Linked DNA regions of Homo sapiens: region 1 is linked to region 2. Evidence: fine-mapped expression QTL. Tissue or cell type: thyroid. Region 2 holds a variant in brackets; the other region holds the start of a gene. All regions are shown on one strand. Distances are from middle to middle.

Region 1 (8,157 bases), 42 kb before region 2:
GAAACTCATCTCCCCATCATCAAATCATCCAAACATCATGCACAATCCATTTGCTGTTCATCTTTCTACCTCTCTGCTTCCCAACACCCACAAATCCATCCTCCATTCACTCACCACCCAGCCATTCCAACGTGCATGATGCAGATCCAAGCATGCACTGCAGACCCATTCCCCCAACCCCCATCAATCATCCATCCATCACCTAGCGCACATTCATTCACAATTTATCCACCATGCTCTGTCCACCCACCCATTGATTTATATCCAGTAACTCCTGTACTCTTATCCATCTACCTACTGTCTCTCTACTTACTACTATCCATTCACACATCATCTAAAATTCATTCACCATTATTCATCCACCATCAATCCATCCCTCCACCATTTGGTCTTGTCCACCATCCATCTACATCCAAAATCCACAACTTTTTCTCACCCACCGTGCATTGCAACAACTATCCATACATACACATCTGTTCAACAGCTACGATTTCTCTTTCACCCATCAACCATCCACTATGCAACCATGATTCATTTTGCCACCGTCCGCCCTTTCCCTCGTTCTCCTTTATTCAACTACCATCTACCATCCATCAACCATCCTTCCATAATCACTCTTCTATCCATCCATCCACCAATAACATTCACCATCTGTGAGCTGCCATCCATACACTTACCCATTCACCATCCACAATCAACTATCTACTCTTTTTTTTTTTTTTTTTTTTTTTTTTTTTAATAGAGTCTCACTCTGTCGCCCAGGCTGGAGTGGAGTGGCACAATCTCGGCTCACTGCAACCTCTGCCTCCCAGGTTGAAGCAATTCGGCCCCAGCCTCCCAAGTAGTTGGGATTACAAATGTGCACCATCACATTTGGCTCATTTTTGTATTTTTAGTAGAGACAAGGTTTCACCATGTTGTCCATGCTGGTCTTGAACTCCTGACCTCAAGTGATACTCCATCCTCAGCCTCCCAAAATGCTGGGGTTACAGGCGTGAGCCACCGCGCCCAGCCAACTATCTGCTTTCATCTACCATCCGTCATCTGTCTGTTGATCAACTGTCCTTCTACAAAATACTATATCAACCCACCACCCATCATCCACCATTCATAACGCACCACCCATCTATCCCCATTCACCATCCACCATCACCTTCCATCTACCTACCATCCACCATCCACCATTCATAACACACCACCCATCATCCCCATTCACCATCCACCATCACCTTCCATCCATCTACCATCCATCATCCACCACCCATCTATCCCCATTCACCATCCACCATCACCTTCCATCCATCCACCATCCATCATCCACCATCCATCTATCCCCATTCACCATCCACCATCACCTTCCATCCATCCACCATCCATCATCCAACATCCATCTATCCCCATTCACCATCCACCATCACCTTCCATCCATCCACCATCCATCATCCAACATCCATCTATCCCCATTCACCATCCACCATCACCTTCCATCCATCTCCCATCCATCATCCACCATCCATCTATCCCCATTCACCATCCACCATCACCTTCCATCCATCTACCATCCATCATCCACCATCCATCCCCATTCACCATCCACCATCACCTTCCATCCATCCACCATCCATCATCCAACATCCATCTATCCCCATTCACCATCCACCATCACCTTCCATCCATCCACCATCCATCATCCACCATTCATAACGCACCACCCATCTATCCCAATTCACCATCCACCATCACCTTCCATCCATCTACCACTCATTCATTCACCATTCATTTATCCACCGTCCATTCATGCATACATCCACCATCCATCTATCCACCATTCATCCATCCACCATCCACTCCCACTATCCATCCATCCACCATCTATCCATCCACACATTCACCATCCACCCATCCACAACCTACCATCCATTCATCCACCATTCACTCATCCACCATCCATTCTCCACCATCCATCTACCCATCCATCCCTCTACCCATTCACATATCCACCATCCACTCATCCATCATCCACAATTCACTCATCCAGCGTCCATTCATCCATCCACCCATTCACACATCCACCCATCTACCATCCACCATCCCTTCATCCACCATCCACCCATCATTCACTCACCCACCATCCACCATCCATCCATCCACCCATCTATATGTCCATTCACCCATTCGCCATCCACTCATCCACCACCCACCATTCATCTATCATCCCTCATCCACTGTCTACCATCCACCATTCATCCATCCACCCATTCACCCATCCACCATCCATCCATCCACCATCCACTTATCCACAATCTGCCATCCACCATTCGCCATTCATCCATCCATTCATCCACCACCCATCACCATTCACATCCACCATCGGCCATTCACCATCCACCATCCACCATCCACCTATTCACCATCCACCATTCACTCATTCACCACCCATCCTTCCATCCACCCACCATCCACCACCCACCATCCACCAACCACTATTCATCTTACCATCCACCATCCACCATCTATCATCCACTATCTACCATCTGCCGCCCATCCATCCACTTAATATTCACCATCTACTCATCACCATTCACTTGTCCATTATCCACCACCCACCAACCATCATCCACCTACCATCCATCATCCACCATTTATCCATTATCTACTTATCTACCATCCATTACCCATCCATTTATCATCCTATCCACCATCTACTATCCACCCATTATCCACTATCCACTGTCTATTCACTATCCACCATCTATTCACTATCCACCGTCCATCTCCATCCACAATTCACCATTTATGCAACCATCATCCACCATCTATCCATTTACCATCTATCTATTCACCATCCACCATCCATCCATTCAGCATTCATCACTCACCAAACATCCACCATTTAACACCCACTTTTTTTTTTTTGAGATGGGGTTTCACTCTTGTTGCCCAGGCTGGAGCACAGTGGCGTGATCTCCGATCACCACAACCTCCGCCTTCCAGGTTCAAACGATTCTCCTGCCTTAGCCTCCCAAGTAGCTGGGATTACAGGCATGTGCCACCATGCCTATCTAATTTTGTATTTTTAGTAGAGATGGGGTTTCTCCATGTTGGTCAGGCTGGTCTCGAACTCCCGACCTCAGGTGATCTGCCCGCCTTGGCCTCCCAAAGTGCTGCGGTTACAGGCGTGAGCCACCGTGCCCCGCCAACACCCACTCTTTATGATCTACCTGTCGGCCATGTATCCATTTATGCCATTATCCATCCACCACTCCCTGATTACCATCCATTCCTTTTCCTTTTTTTTTTTTTTTTTTTGAGACGGAGTCTCGCTCTGTCGCTCAGGCTGGAGTGCAGCGCACGATCGTGGCTCACTGCAAGCTCCACCTCCTGGGTTCACGCCGTTCTGCCTCAGCCCCCCAAGTAGCTGGGACTACAGGCGCCTTCTACCATGCCCGGTTAATTTTTTTGTATATTTTTAGTATAGACGGGGTTTCACCGCGTTAGCCAGGATGGTCTTGATCTCCTGACCTCGCGATCCGCCTGCCTCACCCTCCCAAAGTGCTGGGATTACAGGCATGAGCCACCACGCCCGGCCATTCATTCATTTTTCACTCACCATCCTCATCCATCCATTCATCACCCATCCACCCTCTATCACTCACCATCCACCCCGTCAACCATTTACCATTCATCTGCCATGCGTCCATATGCCGTACACCATGCACCATCAATGTTGCTGTCCATCAGCTGTCCCCTACTCACCATCCACTACTCTCCACCATCATCCACAATCCACCCTCCTATACCATCCACATACCATGTTCCATCCAGGATCTTCCTTCTATCATCCAACCACCACCCACAGCCCATGGGACAGGGGCACTGCGTGGAGAAGTGGACACCCAGTTCCAATGGTGAGCAGACTAGCTCAGCCCTAGCAGCACACAGGACAGAGAAAGGGGTGAATTCAAAGGTCGTTTATTCCCCCTCCCGGCAAGACACCCATTTTACAGGGTAGGTCAGTCTCGCCAAGCCCTTCTTCTTTGCCCTTCTTCCTGAGAACCTAAGGTGTTCAGGCCCTGCAGGGGCGGGTAAGGGGAGGCTGAGAAGGTGCCTCCCAGGGGCCTGAAGAGTCGGCCCTGGGCGGGTCTGGAGGTAAATGTGTAACCGACCCTGGTGCCCCCACCCGACCTGCCTGGTCACGTGGGTCCAGTGGGGCAAAGTCTCCTGGTGGGGTGCAAGGAGCCGAGGCGAGATGGGCGTCCTGGGCCGGGTCCTGCTGTGGCTGCAGCTCTGCGGTGAGCCGGGACCACACCGGTGCGGGCCCGGACGGTAGCGGTCTGTCAGGACCCAGGGCCGAGGTCGCTCTAGGCCTGGAGGGTGAAGATCTTCCGAGGAGTGGGCAGGGAGGGCTTTGGAGGGTTGGGGGCGTGAAACTCGGCCCTGCCTCCCTCGTCTGGCGAGTGCGCAGCCCGGAAGTGCGCGGCCAGTGCATCGGGCGGTGCGGGAGAGGAGAGGAGGGGCTCCGGGAACCTCGGCCAGCCCCGGCCTCCGGCGGCTCCTGCCCTCGCGGTTTTTCCGTCTGCGAAATGGGCGCGGTCCCCAGAACCTGCCGAGAGCAGCGAGTGTGCGCCTGCGGGGCTCGGCAGACCGCCTCAGCTTCCCGGTCCCCAAGGGAGCACTGAGCCCTCCTCCGCCTTCACACCAGGCCGGCGCGTGTCCCTGGCGCCCCCTTCCCTAAACCCCTCGCGGCTCCCTCAGGACAACCCCACCCACCACATTCAGGGCCGGCCTGACCTGGTCCTGCCGCCCCCAGCCCCTTCTTACTTCTCATACCGGGTTGCGCTCTGTCGCAGCTCTTCCCGGCCCAGGTAGGACTCCTCCGGGAAGCCTTCCTGATTCCAAGGCCGAGAAGAGGTCTGTGCTGCCCCATCCTCCTCCATGCCCCAGTTGTCACTGTCCTTAACAACGCTGTCCTCTGCTCCAGCGCCAGGCAAACTGGGGGCAGTGCCGGGAGGCTATCTAGGCAGGCGTCCTGCAGGGCGCGTTTGAGCGGGCTCTGCAGGTATCAGTAGAAGTCCGTTGGAGAGCGCCCGGGCAGGGCGCCCACAGTCTGGCCGGGAGGGACCAGGGTCTGGGTCCGGGCCCCCGGGGATGGGGTTCCTATGCGTCCCGGGTGATCCGCGCGGACCTTCCGCACTTCTCTGGGTGGGTGGCCTTCCCTGAGAAGGGAGCATCCCGGAGAGCATCCCGGGCACTCAGTCGCCTCCTCCCCAGCACTGACCCAGGCGGTCTCCAAACTCTGGGTCCCCAACACGGACTTCGACGTCGCAGCCAACTGGAGCCAGAACCGGACCCCGTGCGCCGGCGGCGCCGTTGAGTTCCCGGCGGACAAGGTGCCTGGGAGCGCCGGCGGGGTCGGTGATGGGCCTGGACCCCTGAGACCGTGTGGCCCCGGTGGGGGTTGCTCCCGGCTCGGCTGAGGCAGCTTCTTCCTGCAGATGGTGTCAGTCCTGGTGCAAGAAGGTCACGCCGTCTCAGACATGGTAAGGCCGGGCTGCTACTGCCACTGGGCTGGGGGTTCACAGAGTCTCTGAAGCGCCTTCAGGGACTGCTGTGCCTTGAGGGCGGACCCCACCGGCATGGAGGCACTGCAGGACTGGGACTTTGGCCTCTGGAGAATATTCTAGGAGGCAGGGAGTGGGGGGGAACCTAGGGGAGCTTGGTCCCATGGTCCCAGCCAGGCTGTGTCCTGGGAGGGATGGGAGGCACCCCTGTCCCCACAGCCCTTGTGATGCCCAGCAGTGGGTGGTCTTCCCAGGAAGCGCCTGCTCCATGCCCTTCCCCCAAAGCCTTGCCTTGTCCTGGTGCCTAAAGCTCCATCTTTAGAACACTAGGGAAAGTGTCCCCAACACCCCCCCCTCTACCCACCATCCGGGTCCCTGGCCTGTTAGGAAGTGGCCGCCCAGGAAGAGGCGAGCCCACTCCTGCCTGGCTCTGCCTCCCTTCAGATCAGATCAGATTCTCCTAGGGACCCCTATTGTCACTGCGCCAGCGAGGGGCCTGGGTGGGTGTGCACTCCTTAAGTGGCTGACATCTGAGATGGGACAGCTTAATCCTGAAACCTTCCCCACTCCCATCAGTCCATGGAAGAACTGTCTTCCACAAAACTGGTCCCTGGTGCCAAAAAGGTTGGGGACTGCTGCCCTAGGGGACCTTTTTCTCAAACTGCTTCACACAACACTCCAAGAACATGATGGGAACTGGGAGGAAAGCGGGTTCCATGAGTAGGTAAGTTTGGGAAATGCTGCAGCCTGCACTTTCCTGGAGCTTCATCACGTATTAAAGGCTCTGATAAGGCCCCAGAGAAAGAAGCTAATTTCCTTGTTTAAGGTGGAGTTCCGCAAGCTACAGGCCAAATGCAGCCCCTACGGGTGGAGCAAGGAACGGTTTTTACACTTTGTAATCGTTGGGGAAAAAAAGAACAATCTTTTGTGGCACTTGAAAAATATATGACATTCACACCTCAGCGACAGTAAATACAGCTTCACTGGCACACAGCCTGCCCGCTTGGTTGAGTATCCTCGGTGGCCACTGTCCCATTGCATCGGCAGCCCACCAGCTTCCAGGGTGACTGTGGGGCCTGCAGGCCAAGCCTCTGGGCAAAAGCTTCCTTCCAGCCCCTTCACAGCCACTCCTGGGCTGCGTCCTCATCCTGTCACCTGCACACCTGCCAGCTCAGTCACTCCTGAGTGAGGGTCACTGGTGAGCTGGGTCGGGGTGTCGGCTCCAGATGTGGGGTCCAGGCCTGGGGCCCCCGCGTGTGCGGGTGGGGAGGATGGCTCAATGGGCTTGGCCTGGCCCATTCCTGCCCCATGCGGGGTCAGGGACCCTGGGCCTCATTTCCACCCCAGGGCCGCTTGGTTCCTTCCTTCAGGTTTTCCAAAGCTGCCTTAACCCAAAAGCTGCCACACACTGGGGAGGGCACCCACAGCAAGATGGCGACGCTCCCACCCGGGAAACAGGAGGAGGGCAGGGAGAGGGAGGCGGTTGCCCCTTGTGGCCCGGCCCCCAGAACCCACGCATAACCTTGGCAACCAGGCAGCCCGAGTGAGGGGGGCACTGGGAGCTGATGGGGGACCTGTGGGCAGAGGAGTCAGGCTGGGCTGGGGGTTCCAGGGCATGGATTTCCCCCTACTCCCCTCCCCTGCCGGCCTCCTTACTTTCATGATCTCCTTTGGAAGCACTTGGGCTCTGAAAGGAGGCAATACTCCATTCATTCATCTATTCAATAATTCATTCATTGATCATCCATTGGCCGGTGGGAACAGCGCAGGGGCAGGGGACAGTGGCCCCAGGGTCCCAGCCTGCAGAGGCCGAATTCACCCAGAGCCGCCCAAGCACCCCCATCCCCTGCCCGCGTCGGCTATGTTGCCCTCCACACCCCTGGCTCCCAGCTTCATCCATCTGCCTAGATGAGGCCCGAGTAACAGGCCGTGCACATCAGTGCCTTACTTTGTAATTCTGTGGTTGGGAGCGTCCCTCCCTGCGATTTTCCTTTTCCTTGCCCTTCCTCCCATTTCTACCTTTTGCCTGCTTTCTTGTTGGGGGAGTCTCCTGTCTTTCACCCATCCCCCTGCCTTGGCTGGAGGCTTTGCAAGTCTGCTCACTGTGGACTTGCCTGCAGTGTCCTGTGCTGAACAGAAACCTTCATTTTAATCGACCTAATGCAAAACGCCTTACCTTAGAACTGTGTTTTTTCTGTTTCGTTTGAGAATCGCGTCTGCTCCTCAGTCACAATGGTAATGGACTGTGTACCTATGGGGCACGTGCACCAGCGAGGGCTCCTGCTGTGTTTCTCTCCTTAGAGTGAACCCAGCTTCCAGCATCCTCCGCCTTGCCCTTTTGTTCTAGCACTGCTGGAATCCGTCGTGTGCCTGGGTGTTGTGGGTCTCTCTGAGCCTTGTCTTCAAGTCCACAGGCCGCTTTGCCGACCCTACACTATCCACACAGTGGCTCTGCAGGATGGCTTAATATCCATCCCCTTCACTCCTGCTCCAAGGTTCTTTGTGGATCTCATTGTTGCAGATAAATTGTAGAATAGGTTTGCCAGGTAACAACTACCACCACCACCACCAAAAAAACCCTGGATTTTTTTTTTTT
Region 2 (8,196 bases):
AGGCCTCTACAATAAGAATCATGGCCAGGCACAGTGGTTCACACCTGTCATCCCAGCACTTTGGGAGGCCAAGGTCGGAGGACTGCTTGAGGCCATGAGTTTGAGACCAGCCTGGGCAACACAGAGAGACCCCATCTCCATAAAAATTAAATAAATAAAATTAGCTGTGCATGGTGGCATGTGCCTGTGGTCCTAGCTACTTGGGAGACAGAGACAGGAGGATCACTTGAGCTGGGGAGATTGAGGCTGCACGTGCCACTGCATTCCTGCCTGGGTGACAGAGTGAGACCCTGTCACACACACAAAAAAACACATATCAAAAAACAAGAATCAAGTGGTTCTTCCCCATGAACAATGGAACAGGGGAGAAGATCCAGAAACAGACCCAAGCCCATGGTGATCCTGTACATGACAACAGTCATACATAAAACCAGCAGGAAAAATAGCTTAATAACTGGTATTGGACAACCAGCTAGCCATTAGCAAAAGATAAAACTGGATACACTCCTCGAACCGTATGTCAGAGCAAATTTCAAATGGATCAGTATTCTAATTTAAAAAATGAGGCTGGGCACGGTGGCTCACGCCTGTAATCCTAGCACTTTGGGAGACACGGCAGTCAGATTGCTTGAGTCCAGGAGTTCAAGACCAGCCTGGGAAATACGGCACAACCCCATCTCTAAAAATAAATAAATAAATAAATAAATAGCCAGGTGTGGTGGCACGTGCCTGTAGTCCCAGCTACTCAGGGGGCTGAGGTGGGAGGATCACTTGAGCCCAGAAAGTTGAGGCTGCAGTGAACCCTGATCGTGCTACTGCACTCCAGCCTGGGCAACAGAGCAAGACCCTGAATCAATCAATCAATCAATCAATCAATCAATCAATCAATCATGAAGCCACACAAGTATGAGAAGCATGAGGGAATCCCTCCAACAACTGGGAGTTAGGTGTATTTTCCTATTTATGACTCAAAAAAGGAAGAAGACTGAAAACTTGACACACAAAAAATTTTGAAAACCACCTTTTTTTTTTTTTCTTGACAGACGGAATCTGGCTCTGTCACCCAGGCTGGAGTGCAGTGGCGAGATCTCAGCTCACTGCAACCTCTGCCTCCCAGGTTCAAGCGATTCTCCTGCCTCAGCCTCCTGAGTAGCTGGGACTATAGGCATGCCCCACCACGCCCAGCTAATTTTTGTATTTTTAGTAGAGATGGCAAAACCCCCCCCACTTTTTTTTAAGACAGCGTTTTGCTCTTGTTGCCCAAGCTGGAGTGCAATGGTGCAATCTCGGCTCACCGCAACCTCTGCCTCCCGGGTTGAGGTTCAAGTTCAAACAATACTCCTGCCTCAGCCTCCTGAGTAGCTGGGATTACAGGCATGCACCACCACGCCCAGCTAATTTTGTATTTTTACAAGAGATGGGGTTTCTCCATGTTGGTCAGGCTGGTCTCGAACTCCAGACCTCAGGTGATCCGCCCACCTCAGCCTCCCGAAGTGTTGGGATTACAGGCGTGAGCCACCGCACCGGCTGCAAAACCACTTTTATTTGGCAAAAAAATAAATAAATGATAAGCAAAGACAAACTAGGAAAAATACTTGCAACTTACATCACAAACAAAAGGCACTAATCCCCAAAATGCAAAAGGCTTTTAGAAATCCGCAAGACTAACAACCTGAATTTTTAAAAGCGGGCAAACAATAAAAACATATAATGCACAAAATACAAAAGTCCCTCAAACATATAAAAAGATGCTCAATCTTACTTATGAGAAATATGCAAGTTAAACCTCTACGGAGATGCTATTTCTCACCTATTCAGAGCGGCAAAAATCCAAAAGTCTGAAATCCTACTTTGTGGGTAGGCTGTGGGGCAGAAACCCCTCATGCAAAGTGGGAGGAACGTCACTGCACAGCCTCTGGAGGCCTGTCCGTCAGCATGCAGCAAGAGTGTACAGGCATGTTTGCCCTTTGCCCTGGCAATCCCACTTCTAGAACTCTATCCCGAAATACACCGACAAAAACAGGAAATGTTCTATCCATACAGCCACTCCTGGCAGCACTTTCTGTGACAGCAAATGCCAGGGAATAAACCATCCCAGTGGCTGGCCAGCCCACGGCAGCGCACAGTGCAGCTGCAGAGGAGGCCGGGGTGGCCCCTCCAGCACAAAATGATGCCTTTTGTGTTATCAGGGGATACAAATGTGTGCCTAGATTTGTGTGGATTTGCCATATGCTTTCAAGATGAAAGGAAGGATAGGCTGGGCACGGTGGCTCACACCTGTAATTCCAGCACTTTGGGAGGCTGAGGTGGGTGGATTGCCTGAGGTCAGGAGTTGCAGACCAGCCTGGCCAACGTGGCAAAACCCCATCTCTACTAAAAATACAAAAATTAGCCAGGGGTGGTGGTGGTGTGCACCTGCAATCCCAGCTACTTGCGAGGCTGAGGCGGGAGAATCCTTGAACCCAGGATGCAGAGGTTGCAGTGAGCCGAGATTGTGCCATTGCACTCCAGCCTGGGTGACACAGCGAGACTGTCTCAAAAAAAAAGGAAGGATAAACCAAAAACAATGGCTACCTTTGGGGAAAATATATTTGAAGATGTTGTTTGAAAATGCTGATTTTGGAAAATACTGAATTTGGAATTCTGTAGGTGCTTCTAAAGTAACTATTAAGTCGAAAAGAAAATAAAAACATTCATTTGAAAAATACTTATATTCAAATAATGCAGAATCGCACAACATTAATTTACCAGTATCTGCTCTGAATTTTTCTTCCATCTTTTTCTTCAAAATTTCCATTTCTTCTAATAATTCTCTGTTTTTGGCTTCGGAATCCTTTAGTTTGCTAAAATAAAAAATAAATGGCTTTAAGTGCACTGAGAAGAGGTTGTCTGTGAGCTGGTATGGGGCAGGTCAGGATGAGAGAGCCGGGATTTCTCCCCAGCACTCAGGACTGTCCAGAACACGGTAGCTCATGCTGGGCCTTTCTACTGCAAACACCATGAACAGTACGAATATTTCAAATATAAACATTCAAACAGGAATTTAAAAAGTCATGGCTTAGGAAGGCGTGTCTCATGAAGGCCTAATGGAGCTCTTGACCTTCCTAATCTTGTTCCCAGGCGAGTCCTCTGTTCTTCAGGGACACAGGGCCCAGGCCGCTCAGCCGTCAGCCCCATCAATATCTTTCCCATAACTGGCAAGATGGTGGCTGCACCAAGAAGCACCAGCACCACCCGCACGGGTAGCCTTGCAATTCCAGCAACTTCGTGCAGGGGACAGAGGAAGTCAGGCTGCCACGGGGAACACCTGGCCGGGAGGGATGCAGTTTGTGGGGGCTGGTCCACTCATCAGTGGGGTGACAGTGGGCAAATCACCTGCGGAGTGTGTGTAAGTGGGAGTAACAAGACTGCCTACCCTGTTGGGCTGTGGGAGGGTCACAGGATTTAACAACAGAACAGTCTTACAGCAATTCCCAGTATAAAGAAAGTCAATTTAACTGAAACCTATTACCATTAATTTTTTAGCCCCAAACTAACAGGATTTGGGACTTGGTAATTCTGTTAGAGACACTGTCCCTTCCAGGTCCTCGCCTGCCTCATGGCACAGCAGAGCTGGCCTGGTTTTTATGAAACTGACGTTCATTATCGTATCCTCGTAAAACCAGATCTGCAAAGAGGAGACTCTCAGCAAATACTGACTGAATCACTGCTGTGTGAAAATGGCGTTCTCGTTACTGCTTGGAGTTAGGGAAAAATTTCAAGTGAGAATGCCATCTTCAACCTCTGTTTTAAAATATTCACGTTAGCTTGAAAGGAACAATCTTGAATTAGTGAATGGAGCGGCACGGAGGTGACTAAGCAGTGAGAGGGGCTCCTGTCAGACAGCGGTGTGAGTCTCGCTACCCAGCGTGGGGGCACAAGCACCCGCTGCCGTCAAAACACGGCTCGCACCGCACCACACCCCCCCGCGGCAGGCAAGGCCCTGCACCCTCGCGGCCACCTCAGTGCCAGAACGGCCTGCTATTCGGGGCTCCTGCAGGTGAACCCGACGTGCTGCCTCCTAAGGCTCCAGCAAACGCCGTGGCCCCGATTTTCCAGGCGAGGAGCATCGGAGCCCGTGAGGCTCAGGGCGGGCTCGAGGCCACACAGCCACTGCTCCTACCTGGAGTCAGACCCTGGCACCAAGTACCTTTCCAAGGTGAGGTTGGCGTCCTTGACCTTCCTGAGCTCCTCCTGGACAAGCTGCTTGGCCCGGATCTCCGCCTCCAGGGCCGACTGCAGCTCCAGCCGCGCGGACATGTCCAGCTTCTGGCTGCGGCGCACCTTCCACAGCGGGTCCTTGAGACACGGTCATGGCGTTAAAAATGCATTTTCAGTTATCCGCTTGTTAAACTAATGTTAACAAATAAGTTATCTTTGTCTAACCTTAAGCCATTACGGTCTCATTTAGATATTAACTCTAAATTATGGAGGTGCCTCAGGAGTTTTAGTTTTGATATTTTATGACTTTTTTTACTCTTCCTCAGAAATCTTCTAAAAAATAACTAAATAATTTACTTTATCTTTTAGAAGAATAAAAGTGATTCTGTAGTGCAATTTCTTTTCTTTTCTTTTCTTTTTTTTTTTGTTTGAGATGTAGTTTCGCTCTTGTTGCCTAGGCTGGAGTGCAATGGCGTGATCTCAGCTTACCGCGACCTCCGCCTCTTGGGTTCAAGCGATTTTCCTGTCTCAGCCTCTCCAGTAGCCAGTAGCTGGGATTACAGGTGCCGCACCACCATGCCTGGCTAATTTTTGTATTTTTAGTAGAGACAGGGTTTCACCACGTTGGCCAGGCTAGTCTCCAACTCCTGCTCTCGTGATCCACCC[C/A]CCTTGGCCTCCCAAAGTGCTGGGATTACAGGCATGAGCCGCTGCGCCTGGCCTCTGTAATGCAATTTCTATATGGGTCCACTGGACCCTGGACCCTTTTACAAACCTAAGGTACATTATAGGGTTCGGTTATCTTTTTCTCATAACTTGAAACGTTTTGCTATTTCACCATCCTGGGAATTATGTCATTACTCATTCCTACCTGTGATTAAAAAAAAAAAAAAAAAAAAAAGACTAAAATAATAAGGGAAGAATGACAGAGTGACCTAGGATGAAGCAACAGTGGAATAAGCCAGTTCACTAACATCATCCTCCTGTTTTCTTACTGAGTTGCCCAATGTATGACATCAACTTTCGAGAGGTATCAAAGAAGTCCAGAGATGCCATCTTGCTGTTTTTTCTTTTTTAAAACAAACTGAAAACCTTTCATTGAACACAATTGAGAATGCTTCATTTTCCATCTATAACAGTAAAGAGAAGAAAATGGACAGAGGAAGGCCAGGTGTGGGGGCTCATGCCTGTAATCCCAGCACTTTGGGAGGCCGAAGCGGGCAGATCACCTGAGGTCAGGGGTTTGAGACCAGCCTGGCCAACATGGTGGAAACCCGTCTCTACTAAAATACAAAAATGAGCCAGGTGTAGCGGCACACGCCTGTAATCCCAGCTACTCGGGGGGGCTGAGGCAGGAGAATCACTTGAAGCCGGGAGGCGGAGGTTGCAGTAAGCCGAGATCACGCCACTGCACTCTAGCCTGGGCAACAGAGTGAGACTGTCGCGGGAGGAAAAAAATAAAATACACACATCACTAAATGAACCAATGAAATTAATAAAAGCAAGCTCTCTGAGGGCAGAATCCAGTCTTAACTTGACACCACGGAGCTCAGTGCTCAGTAATTATTTGCTAAACGAATGAATGCTGTCGAGAGAAGCCATGATGATCTGAGAGCTGGCAAATGTTGGCGTTCCTTAAATTGGGGAACTGGTTACACAGAAGTCTCTTGCATCACTGTAATTCCCTAAATAGTACTTATATGTCACATTTATACTTAAAACCATTAGCGAATTATTCAGTAATAGAAATGCAGGCATTACACAAAACCTACCAGTGTTCTTGACCCCAGACTAGAACTCCTCAAAGCCTCGAGCTCTTCGGTCATCTTGGAAGCAAGAGCTTGAAGGTAACCCCGGGCATCTTTCTCGTCACTGACCCTGGAGGAGGGAACAGATGTTCTATCTCACGAAGCATGGCTATCAGGGAGAAGCCAAACAAGAAGGGGACGTTCCCGCCTTCCTCGGCACACAGTGACACAGTGTCACGTCAGCTAGAGTGCCCGCAGTGTACCCGTTGTATACACGGGATCTCATTGATGGATGCGTCGTTACATTGCACATGACTGCAGTTTAAAAAGACACCAAACTTCCAAGACTCAAGAATGAAAAAATTCTATTACTCCATAAATATATATACCTACTACGCACCCACAAAAATTAAAAATAAAAACTCTTTTTTTAATTACAACTTCACACCTTAGGAGCGGAGGGCCAGGTCCCAGCTCGCTCCAAGTCTCCCTGCTGCTTCTGCAGCCGCTTTGGGAGGGCTCTGCCTCCCCTGTCTCTGAGAACGCAAGGGGTGTGAACGGTTTGCCCCAAGTCCTTCAGTGGGTTGGTGGGGGCGTATCTCCACCTCTATTCCAACAGAACCACTGCCCCAGACATGAGAAGTTCTGGGGAACAGCAGTGAGACCTGCACCCCAGCCTGAGAGGCACGGCCTGGCGTGGAGCACAGGATCAGGCAGAAGAGGCGGGGCAGACCCCATGGACTGAGCAGGGAGCGGATTCACGGCCGCTAATGGGGCCGCGCACGTACCACTGAATGATTTCCGCAATCTGAGCTTCCCAGTGGGCCACTGACTCCTTCTTGGCTGCCAGATCCTGCAGCTCATCCTCCAGCTGTCTATTTTGAGCTGTGAGTTTATCCACAAAGGAACAGAGCTGAAATGAAACAATTTCACCACAGAACTTGTTAATCGGGCATCCTTTAAGTATGCTGGATTTAACACTGGAAGTTCTTTTGAAGACTCTGAAAGTTTTCTTTAATCGTCATGAGATTTTTCCAAACTAAGTTCATGATATGGATTTTTTTCACTGTATCTAGCTTAAGTCACATTTCAATTCAAATCTAAACCTAAACTGATGGAGCTGGAGCTAGTGACTTCAGGCAATTGGCATCTTTTCGCTGAATACAAACATCCTATTTAAAAGACCAAACACATGACTCCATTCAAAAATTAAAACAGTCACGTGTAGTGAAACAGCAAGAACACGGTCTGAGAAACGTGTCCTTGCACACACAGCGTGAATGCACTCACGCAAGCCTAGACGGTGCGGCTGCCGCACACCAGGCCCTGTGGTACAGCCTGTCAATTCCAGGCCCCAAGCCTGCATACCATGTTGCTGTGCGGGACGCTGCCGGCGGCTGTAGCACAATGCTAAGTATCTGTGTATCTCAACACAGAAGAGGTAGAGTAAAGTACAGTATTATGATCGTACGGGACGCCTGTTGTACACACAGTCTATCATTGATGGAAGCATCGTTATATGGCACATTACTGCACTGTAAAAAGACACCAAACTTCGGCCGGCGCAGTGGCTCATGCCTGTAATCCCAGCACTTTGGGAGGCTGAGGTGGGTGGATCATGAGGTCAGGAGATTGAGACCATCCTGGCTAACACGGTGAAAACCCGTCTCTACTAAAAATACAAAAACTTAGCCAGGCGTGGTGGCAGACGCCTGTAGTCCCAGCCACTTGGGAGGCTGAGGTGGGAGAATGGCATGAACCTGGGAGGCAGAGGTTGCAGTGAGCCAAGATCGCGTCACTGCACTCCAGCCTGAGCGACAGAGCGAGACTCCATCTCAAAAAAAAAAAACCAAACTTCCAAGACTCAAGAATGACGACATTCTACTCCCCCATAAATATATATACCTACTATGTACCCACACAAATTAAAAATAATTTTTTTTTAAATTACAACTTCCACACAAAGTGCTAACTCAGGTACTTTGAATTAATTACCTTTTCATTTTCAGCAGTTAGCTTCTTGTTTTCATCAAACAGCATCGCTCTTTCTCGTTCGTATTTATCTTTTATTGTACCTACTGCCTCCTCCATCTCGTTATGCCTGCCAAGGTGAGCGAGAAACAGTTTTAAAAGCTCGTAACTTCACTGATATTCGTATCTATGGCGTGGGTATCAGCTTGCATCTTCTGAACTGAGAAGCTCATGAAAACCTACCGTTCTCGCTTTGACTTTTCTAACTTATCTTTTAACA

What was found. PIP is the estimated chance that this variant, and not a neighbour inherited with it, causes the effect.
Region 1: AMN starts here. The variant in region 2 is fine-mapped to the expression of AMN in thyroid (GTEx, PIP 0.99).

What each region holds. Positions count from the first base shown.
Region 1 is chr14:102,918,440-102,926,596 of GRCh38, forward strand. AMN (amnion associated transmembrane protein) reads left to right here and starts at 4,224. Exons shown (of 12, transcript NM_030943.4): 1 at 4,224-4,292; 2 at 5,272-5,390; 3 at 5,496-5,540. The coding sequence starts at 4,250. RefSeq lists silencers at 4,448-4,647, 5,811-6,009.
Region 2 is chr14:102,960,313-102,968,508 of GRCh38, forward strand. CDC42BPB (CDC42 binding protein kinase beta) reads right to left here. Exons shown (of 37, transcript NM_006035.4): 15 at 8,160-8,196; 16 at 7,941-8,046; 17 at 6,734-6,858; 18 at 5,970-6,075; 19 at 4,190-4,338; 20 at 2,749-2,843. Among named protein-coding and RNA genes, the nearest start is that of AMN, 42 kb to the left of the region's middle. The variant C/A (reference allele first, on the strand shown) is at 4,867.